Linked DNA regions of Homo sapiens. The protein of the gene in region 1 interacts with the protein of each later gene in a biochemical or structural test. Each region holds a gene or a part of one and is shown on either strand. Other genes may lie near its edges.

Region 1 (5,088 bases):
GGGTGTTGGGGTGGCAAGTATATTTCTAGGTTTTTAACTTTTTTTTAAATGTTCGGTATTAATTTTTTGTTGCATTTTTTTTCTTGGGCAGTAGATTGCTTGCTAGTTTTCCTAAAAATGGTCAGGAATAGGACACAGATGTTCCTAATTCTAATAGCATGAGATGCCTTTTATTCTTGAATTACGTTATTCTTACAAAAACCACGATAAGTGAAATTCACCCAGTGCAGTACTTCTTTCTAGTTAAAACAAAATTGACAAAACTTCACGGTTTCAGTTCTTGTACATATATGTATGCAGGTCCCAGGGATCAGCCTCAGTCTTTGTGAGAACCATACCATAGAGGGCTATTTTGAGAACGAAATAAACAAAGCAGTGGGCATTTATTTAGTTCAGATGAGGAAAAGATTAAATTTATACCCATCTTTTAAGTAGATAGTGGCAGCAGTAAATAAATTTGTGGAATAATTTTTACATAAATCCTGCTATGATACTTTATTATGCCATATTAGCCAAGTATTGTGTAGCCATTAATAATTCAGTCCCCAAGAACCTTTTCTGTGGTTTTCATTGATTAAAATGGGGACTTACATAGCAAACCATTCAGCATTCTGAGTCAGTCACAATGTACCTCTGATAAAATGTTTCTTCTTGATTGATTAAAAAATTTTCCCCCAGAAAATGGCTGCTGTTTTACCAATTAAGGGAAATGAGTAGACCCGATTAACTATAGTTTATCAATACATTGTCATGGGGCAAAATAAATGATACATTTGGAGCTAGTGTAAGATTTGTATTTAACTGGGTACATAATAGCGTTGGCAGTTAAATAATGGGGTCCGATAAGGTCATTGGGAACTTCTTAAAAATTAATCAGCTGACTACAAGCCAGAAGCAAAATACATTTTTACTGAATTCTCTGTGTTACAAGTTGAAGCAGTGTGGGAAACCATGCCACTGGTGTTACTATTGGGGTTGCACTGGGTCTGTTTTTTGAGTGGCCAGTTTGAGTGACTTTATATTAGCATTTTAAATTAATGATGTGTGTGGGTTTTGTTTGTTCATTTTTTACTTTGAAGTAATTAGAGGCTTATAGTTTGTAAGCATTTCAAGCAGGTTTTTAAATAAATGCTTTAATTTTTTTTATAAGATAGGACCTTGGCTTTGTGGAGCATTATAGAGCTATATTTTGGAGTTGAAATTTGAGCTCCTTTTTGGTAACTGTGGAGTTACTGCTCAGGAAATGAACTGTGTTACATTTTTATTTTATGAGTTGGTAAATAGCAAAAGAATAAGTGTTTAGGGAGTACTTCTATAGAATTAATTTGCTTTGGTTTGTTTGATCAAGGAATTGCAGATATAAGACCTGTTGTGTTGATTTTCTTCATGTGGGGTTGGGTACTGCTGCTGCATTGTCTTTAGTGTTTCATTCCTCCTGTCTGTATCTTTTAAAAGAAAGAGCACTGACTCTCTTTTTGTGTCAGTTTATTCCTATTGATGTAACAGAAAAAACATGGTAGAATATTCAGGTTTTTTTGGAGAAGTGACTAGGCGATTCTTATATACATCATGCGTCATCAAGTCATGCTTAAATTAAAAAGAATATTAGTGACTTACTTCAAATATCAAACTAAGTAGTAAACTGTTAACTATAGTTAATATTTTGCTGTGGCATAGAATAGGAAGCTATGCTTGTGACCTGTAGGGATCTAGTTTAATTTGTAATATTGGCCAAAGTGTTTTTTTGAAACGGTCACTTGGATTGAAAGAAATAAGCTTCATCTTCCAGTGCATATGAACATTAGAAATTGCTTAATTTGACACTGAAGACCCCCCCTCTATCATTCACTTTATCTTTTCATTCTCTTCTTGATTACCAACTTTGTTCTAAATGTAACACATCGTATGGTTGCTTAACTGATGCCTGCCCTTTCTTCTCTTTTCCTGCTTTGTTAAGATATTTATTGAGCACCTGTCACAGACACTGGGGATACAGTAGTGAATAAAACAGACAGAGACCCTTACCTGGAGGATAATACTGCTGAGAAAAATAAAGCAAGGGGGTTTGGATATCAGAGTATGTGAAAGGGGGAACAGTTTTCAAATTGGGTGGTCCGGAAAGTTCTTGAGGAAGGTGACATTTGCGAAAAGATCTGAAGGAGGTGGGCATTAGGGCCATGTTGGTCTCCCATCTGTCTAAATCATAAAGTCATAATTAATATGGTAATAATTTGCATAGGTTTCTCTACCTTCCACCGTCGTTTCCCATGTCAGCTACTTAGATTGACCCTAAAATGCTAATAAAACTTTCTAGACTGTGGTACTTCTCAACCTTTAGGTTACATTTGACCATTTGCATGTGTGTGTCTCTTTTCTTCCTACTAGACCCCCTTGAGTTAGTGCTTTTTTTTTTTTTTTTTTTTAAATGTAGATGGAGTCTCACTCTTGTTGCCCGGGCTGGAGCGCAGTGGTGCAATCTCGGCTCACTGCAACCTCCACCTCCTGGGTTCAAGTGATTCTCCTGCCTCAGCCTCCTGAGTAGCTGGGATTACAGATGTCCACCACCACGCCCGGCTAATTTTTGTATTTTTAGTAGAGATGGGGTTTACCTTTGTTGGCCAGGCTGGTCTCGAACTCCTGACCTCAGGTTATCACCTGCCTCAGCCTCCCAAAGTGCTGGGATTACAGGCATGAACCACTGCGCCTGGCCTAAGTTAGTGCTTTTGATGTCACAAAAACTTGGGTGAGTTTGTTTCAGTAGAATTTTCTGAAAATACATGAGATCTTTTTACTGTAGTTTCTCAGAAGAGAATACTCAAAGCATTTGATACTGGATTTGTAGTGATTTTAATTTTCTTCTGTATCTTTTAATTTTTGATTTTAAAAATGGGATAAGAAGGGCAAATTACTGATTGGTTTAACTAGTTTATTCAGAGCTTTTCTTAAAATAATGACTTGAAAGGTGGATTTAATAGAGTACTTTTTAAAAAGATTGTTTTCTCATGCCTGAAAGCATTGAATGTTTTTACATAGCTTTATATCTGGATCAGAAGGGAACGAGTTCTAATTCATGCTTTTTTTTCCGTTTTATTAATGACTGAAAGTCCTCCCCCAGAAATTATCGTAACGTTTATTGGTAATTCTCTGTATCATTCTCGAAATGTTTAATTTCCATTTCCTCTTTATTTAAAAAAAAAAAAAAACTTGATGTAAATTTCTTCATTTATTGAGCAATTGTTTGAGGGCCCAAAGGCACAGTGCAAGTTTCTGAGAATACTAGGAGCAAAATGTGCTTATGATCTTTTTAAGCACTTTTTTCTTTCGTTTTCTTTTTATGATACTAAGAGCTCTTCCTATTATCACAGTGTATAGATATCTGAGTCACAATATCATGACTGTCTCCCAGTTTACAGCAGAACGTGCTTTTTACCTTGGATTAAAATTTGCTTTATTTGGCCGGGTGCAGTGAGTGGCTCATGCCTGTAATCCCAGCACTTTGAGAGGCCGAGGTGGGTGGATCATTTGAGGTCAGGAGTTCGAGACCAGCCTGGCCAACATGGTGAAACCCCACCTGTACTAAAAATACAAAAATTAGCCAGGCGTGGTGGTGGGTCCCTGTAATCCCAGCTACTCAGGAGGCTGAGGCAGGAGAATCGCTTGAACCCGGGAGGCGGATGTTGCAGTGAGCCGAGATTGCGCCACTGCACTCCAGCCTGAGTGACAAAGTGAGACTCCGTCTCAAAAAAAAATTTTTTTTTTGCTTTAGTATACTTATCAGAAGTATAATGCAGTACAGAGTGTTGTACAGTATTTCAGTGCTGTACAGAGATTAATCTTGTGGATAATAATTGGGAGATACTCTATCCCTACTCTATTTTTAACAGTTTAATGTAGTTGAGTGTTCATTAGCAAGTGGTTACTTTGAATAATACTGGCACATTTGAAGCATTGAACTTGTTTGATAATGTATGTCCCAGAAGACAGGTATTATTGTATTTAGCACAAAGCAAAGGGAAGAAGAAACACTGTTTATGTCCAAAACTATGGGGCAGTGGTCTTCTCTTTTACTTTTCTTTGCTGCTGTTCATGAAGCTTGTTACCTTTTCGCTGTCTTTTTTTTGAGACGGAGTCCTGCTCTGTCGCCCAGATTGGAGTGCAGTGGTGCGATCTTGGCTCACTGCAACCTCCACCTCCCAGCTTCAAGTGATTCTCCTGCCTCAGCCTCCCGAGTAGCTGGGATTACAGGCATGCACCACCACGCCCGGGTAATTTTTTGTATTTTTAGTAGAGACGGGGTTTCTCCATGTTGACCAGGCTGGTCTCCAGCTCCTGGCCTTAGGTGATCCGCCTGCCTCAGCTTCCCAAAGTGCTGGGATTACAGACATGAGCCACCTCACCCAGCCCAGATAATCCTTTTACACACTGTTTAAAATTTTCAATTTTCCTGGAGATAGGGTCTCCTGTCGCCCAGCGGGTAAATGCAGTGGTGCGATTATAGCTCACTGCAGCCTCAGACACCTGGGCTGAAGCCTGATTCTTGAGCCTCCCAAGTAGCTGGGACTATAGGTGTGAGCCATCATGCTTTGCCCTTTTTTTTTTTTTTTTTTTTTTTTGAGGCAGAGTCTCACTCTGTCACCTAGGCTGGAATGTAGTAGTGGCACGATCATAGCTCATTATAACCTCAAACTCCTGGTTTCAAGCAATCTTCCCGAGTAGTCAGGACTACAGGCATGCCCTGCCATGCCCAACTAATTAAAAAAAAATTTTTTTTTATACACATAGGGTCTCACTATGTTACTCAAGCTAGTCTCCAATTCCTGGCCTTAAGAGATTTTCCCAAAGCATTAGGATTATAGGCATGAGCCACCTCACCCAGCTGAAACAGATAATTCTTTTTTTTTTTTTCCTTGAGATGGAGTTTTGCTCTTGTCAGCCAGGCTGGAGTGCAATGGCGCGATCTCGGCTCGCTGTAACCTCTGCCTCCCGGGGTCAAGCGATTCTCCTGTCTCAGCTTCCCCAGTAGCTGGGATTACAGGCGTCCACCACCACACTCGGCTAATTTTTTGTATTTTAGTAGAGATGGGTTTT
Region 2 (4,352 bases), on another chromosome or scaffold:
ACTGTTCCTACCCCTGTCCCCACCCCTTTTCAGAGCTTTTCCACCAGTGCTCTGTTGTTCTTGTTATCTTGAATCTCTTCTAGCAGAAGGAAATAAATCTGACAAGTTACTAATGCTTTAGTCAGAACCTGTTAAACAGGCTACATATAATGCCGAAGAGTTTGCATTTCAAAGAGGCCTGTTGATGGAGGGATCCTAAAAGAATAAGGCTCTATATTAGAATTCCGGGGTCTGAATGTGTAAAGTATATGGGAGATATGCTGGGATGTGCATATGTGGGAGGAGGGCAGGGGAAGCATTCTTATAATTCTTCAAATTTTATTCTTTTCTGCATTCATGCAGGGCCAGCCCTACCTGCTACACATACATATGGCAAATGCTCTCGTCAACCGCTCTTAATGATGGTAGGTGTGTGCATCTGAGAATTATCTATAGCAAATGCTTTATCTGTGAATACCTTCTCTCACTGTTTTTGGAGCTCTTCCCCATTTTATCTGTGAGAATATACTCGGACAGCAGACAGACAGATAACAAACAAGCACTAACTTAGGCTAAGGTCCTAATATACATGATCCTACTTATTCTTCATAACAACCCAATGAGGTAGTTATTATCATTATTCACATTTTAAGGATAAAGAAACTGACTCACCTAAGGTTACATAGACCAAGTGGTAGACTGGATTTCCGCCTAGGTCTGAAAGACTTCAAAACCCATGTTTTTAGCCATTACCCTTATAACTCATCATGGTGGTCAAGATGCTGGAAAACAAGCCTTCAAAATGCCACTCAAACTCCAGTTTGACAGAGTCAATATGCCAGTGTTGCCTTTCACTAGAGATTACATCTATGACAAAAGTACAGCACTGGCACCTAACAACAAAACTCCCAAATACAGGAAGAAAAAACTGACAGAATTGAAGGGAAAAATACACAATTCAACAACAGTAGTAGGAGACTTCAATACTCTACTTTCTTTCTTTTCTTTTCTTTTCTTTTTTTTTTTTTTTGAGACGGAGTCTCACTCCGTTGCCTGGGCTAGAGTCCAGTGGTGCGACCTCGGCTCACTGCAGCCTCTGCCTCCTGGGTTCAAGTGATTCTCCTGCCTCAGCCTCCCGAGTAGCCAGGATTACAGGCGCCTGCCACCACGCCCGACTAATTTTTTGTGTTTTTGGTAGAGGCGGGGTTTCACCATGTTGGCCAGGCTGGTCTCAAACTCCTGACCTCAAGTGATCCACCTGCCCTGGCCTCCCAAATGCAGGGATTACAGGCGTGACCCACCGCACCCGGCCAATACTCCACTTTCAATAATGGATAAAACAACTAAGCAGAATATCAACAAGGAAACAGAGGACCTGAACAATACTATAAATCAAACTAGACCTAACCGAAATCTATAGAACCATCTACTTAACAGCAGCAGAATATACATTATTCTTAAGTGCATATGGAACACTGTTGTGAATAAACCGTATGTTAGGATATAAAATAAGCCTTACTAGATTTAAAAGGAATAAAATCATACAAAATATATTTTCTGAGCACAACATAATTAAATTAGAAATCAGTAACAGAAGGGAGTCTGGGAAATTCACAAGTAGAAATCAAACAAAACACTTTTTTTTTTTTTTGATACAGGGTCTTGCTCTGTCACCTAGGTTGGAGTGTAGTGGTGCAATCTTGGCTCACTGCAACCTTCACCTCCTGGGCTGAAGTGATCCTCCCGCCTCAGCCTCCCAAGTAGCTGGGATTACAGACACCTGCCACCACGCCCAGCTAATTTTTGTATTTTTGGTAGACATGAGGTTTCACCATGTTGGCCAGGCTGGTCTCAAAATCCTGGCCTCAAGTGATCTGCCTGCCTCAGCCTCCCAAAATGCTGGGATTACAGGCATGAGCAACCGTGCCCAGCCAAAACACTCTTAAATAACCAGGCTGTCAAGGAAAAAAATCACAAGAGAAATTAGAAAATACTTTGAGATGAATAAAAATGAAAATACCACATACCAAAATTTATGGGATCTAGCTAAAGTCGTTTTTTTAAATTTTTTATTAATTTATTTTTTGAGATGGAGTTTTGCTCTTATTGCCCAGGGTGGAGTGCAATGGCACGAACTCAGCTCACTGCAACCTCCACCTCCCGGGTTCAAGCGATTCTCCTGCCTCAGCCTCCCAAGTAGCTGGGATTATAAGCATGTGCCACCATGTCTGGTTAATTTTGTATGTTTAGTAGAGATGGGGTTTCACCATGTTGGTCAGGCTGGTCTCGAACTCCTGACCTCAAGTAATCTGCCTACCTCAGCCTCCCAGAGTGCTGGGATTATAGGCGTGAGCCACCGCGCCCGGCCTAAAATAGTTCTTAAAGGGGAAATCTGTAGCTGAAAGTGCCTACGTTAAAAAAGAGGAAAGATTTCATATGAATTACCATAAACTTCCACTTCTACCTTAAGAAACCAGAAAAACAAGAGCAAACTAAGTAGAAAGAATGAATAAGACCTACTATTTGATAACGCAATAGGGTGACTACCGTCAATAATAACTTAATTGTACTTTTAAAAATAACTAAAAGAGCCAGAGTAATCAGACAAGAGAAATAAATAAAGGGCATCCAAACTGGTAAAGAGGAAGTCGAATTGTCACTGTTCACAGATGATATGATCATATACTTAGAAAATGCTGAAGACTCATCCAAAAAGCTCCTAGATCTGATAGATGAATTCATTAAAGTTTCAGGATACAAAATCAATGTACACAAATCAGTAGCACTGCTATACACCAACAGTGACCATGCTGAGAATCAAATCAAGAACTTCACCCTTCTTACAATAGCTGCAAAAAAAATAAAACACCAAGGAGGTGAAAGACCTCTACAAGGAAAACTACAAAACACTGCTGAAAGAAATCACAGATGACACAAACAAATGAAAACACAGCCTATGCTCATGGGTGTGTGCAATCAATATTGTGAAAATGACCATACTGCTAAAAGCGATCTGCAAATTCAACGCTATTCCCATCAAAATGCCATCATCATTTTTCACAGAACTAGAAAAAAAAATCCTAAAATTTATATGGAACCAAAAAAGAGCCCGCATAGCAAAAGCAATCCTAAGCAAAAGAACAAATCTGGAGGCATCACATTATCAGATTTCAAACTATACTACGAGGCATGGTACTGGTATAAAAATAGGTACATAGGCCAATGGAACAGAATAGAGAACCCAAAAATAAACCCAAATACTTACAACCAACTGATCTTCGACAGAGCAAACAAAAACATAAAGTGGGGAAAGGACACCCTTTTCAACAAATGGTGTTGGGACAACTGGCTAGCCCCATGTAGGAGAATGAAACTGGATCCTCATCTCTCACATTGCACAAAAATTAACTCAAGAGGGATTAAGGACTTAAATCTAAGACCTGAAACCATAAAAGTTCTAAAAGATAACATTGGAAAACCCCTACTAGACATTGGCTTACACAAGGATTTCATGACCAGGAACCCAAAAGCAAAAGCAATAAAAATAAAGATAAATAGTTGGGACTTAATTAAACTAAAGAGCTTTTGCACAGCAAAAGGTACAGTCAACAGAGTAAACAGACAACCCACAGAGTGGGAGAAAATCTTTGCAAACTATGCATCCAACAAAGGACTAATATCCAGAATCTACAAGGAGCTCAAACAAATCAGCAAGAAAAAAACAAACAATCCCACCAAGAAGTTGGCTAAGGACATGAATAGACAATTCTCAAAAGAAGGTATACAAATGGCCGAGCATAGGGAAAAATGTGCAACATCACTAATTATCAGGGAAATGCAAATCAAAATTACAATGCAATATCACCTTACTCCTACAAGAATTCACCATAATGGCTGGGCGCGATAGCACATGCCTGTAATCCCAGCACTTTGGGAAGCTGAGGTGGGCAGATCACAAGGTCAGGAGTTCGAGACCAGCCTGACCAACATGGTGAAACTCCGTCTCTACTAAAATACAAAAATTAGCCAGGCATGGTGGTGCATGCCCGTAATCCCAGCTACTCAAGAGGCTGAGCCAGGAGAATGGCTTGAACACGGAAGGTGGAGGTTGTGCCACTGCACTCCATCCTGGGTGACAGAACAAGACTCTGTCAAAAAAAAAAAAAAAAAAAAAGAATGGTCATAATTTAAAAATAAAAAAAAAATATGTGTTGGTGTGGATATGGTGAAAAGGAACACTTTTACACTGCTGGTGGGAATGTAAACTAGTACAACCACTATGGAAAACAGTATGGAGATTCCTTAAAAAACTAAAAGTAGATTTACCATTTGATCCAAGAGTCATTATATGAAAAAGACACTTGCACATGCAT

What was found. The genes of interacting proteins can lie anywhere in the genome.
Region 2: the proteins of ATP2A2 (region 1) and FRMPD3 interact in a test that uses a peptide from one of them, tested with the Homo sapiens proteins (one large-scale study listed by IntAct).

What each region holds. Positions count from the first base shown.
Region 1 is NC_000012.12:110,283,513-110,288,600, forward strand, and holds part of ATP2A2 (sarcoplasmic/endoplasmic reticulum calcium ATPase 2), read left to right. Parts: intron 1-5,088.
Region 2 is NC_000023.11:107,592,595-107,596,946, reverse strand, and holds part of FRMPD3 (FERM and PDZ domain-containing protein 3), read right to left. Parts: intron 1-4,352.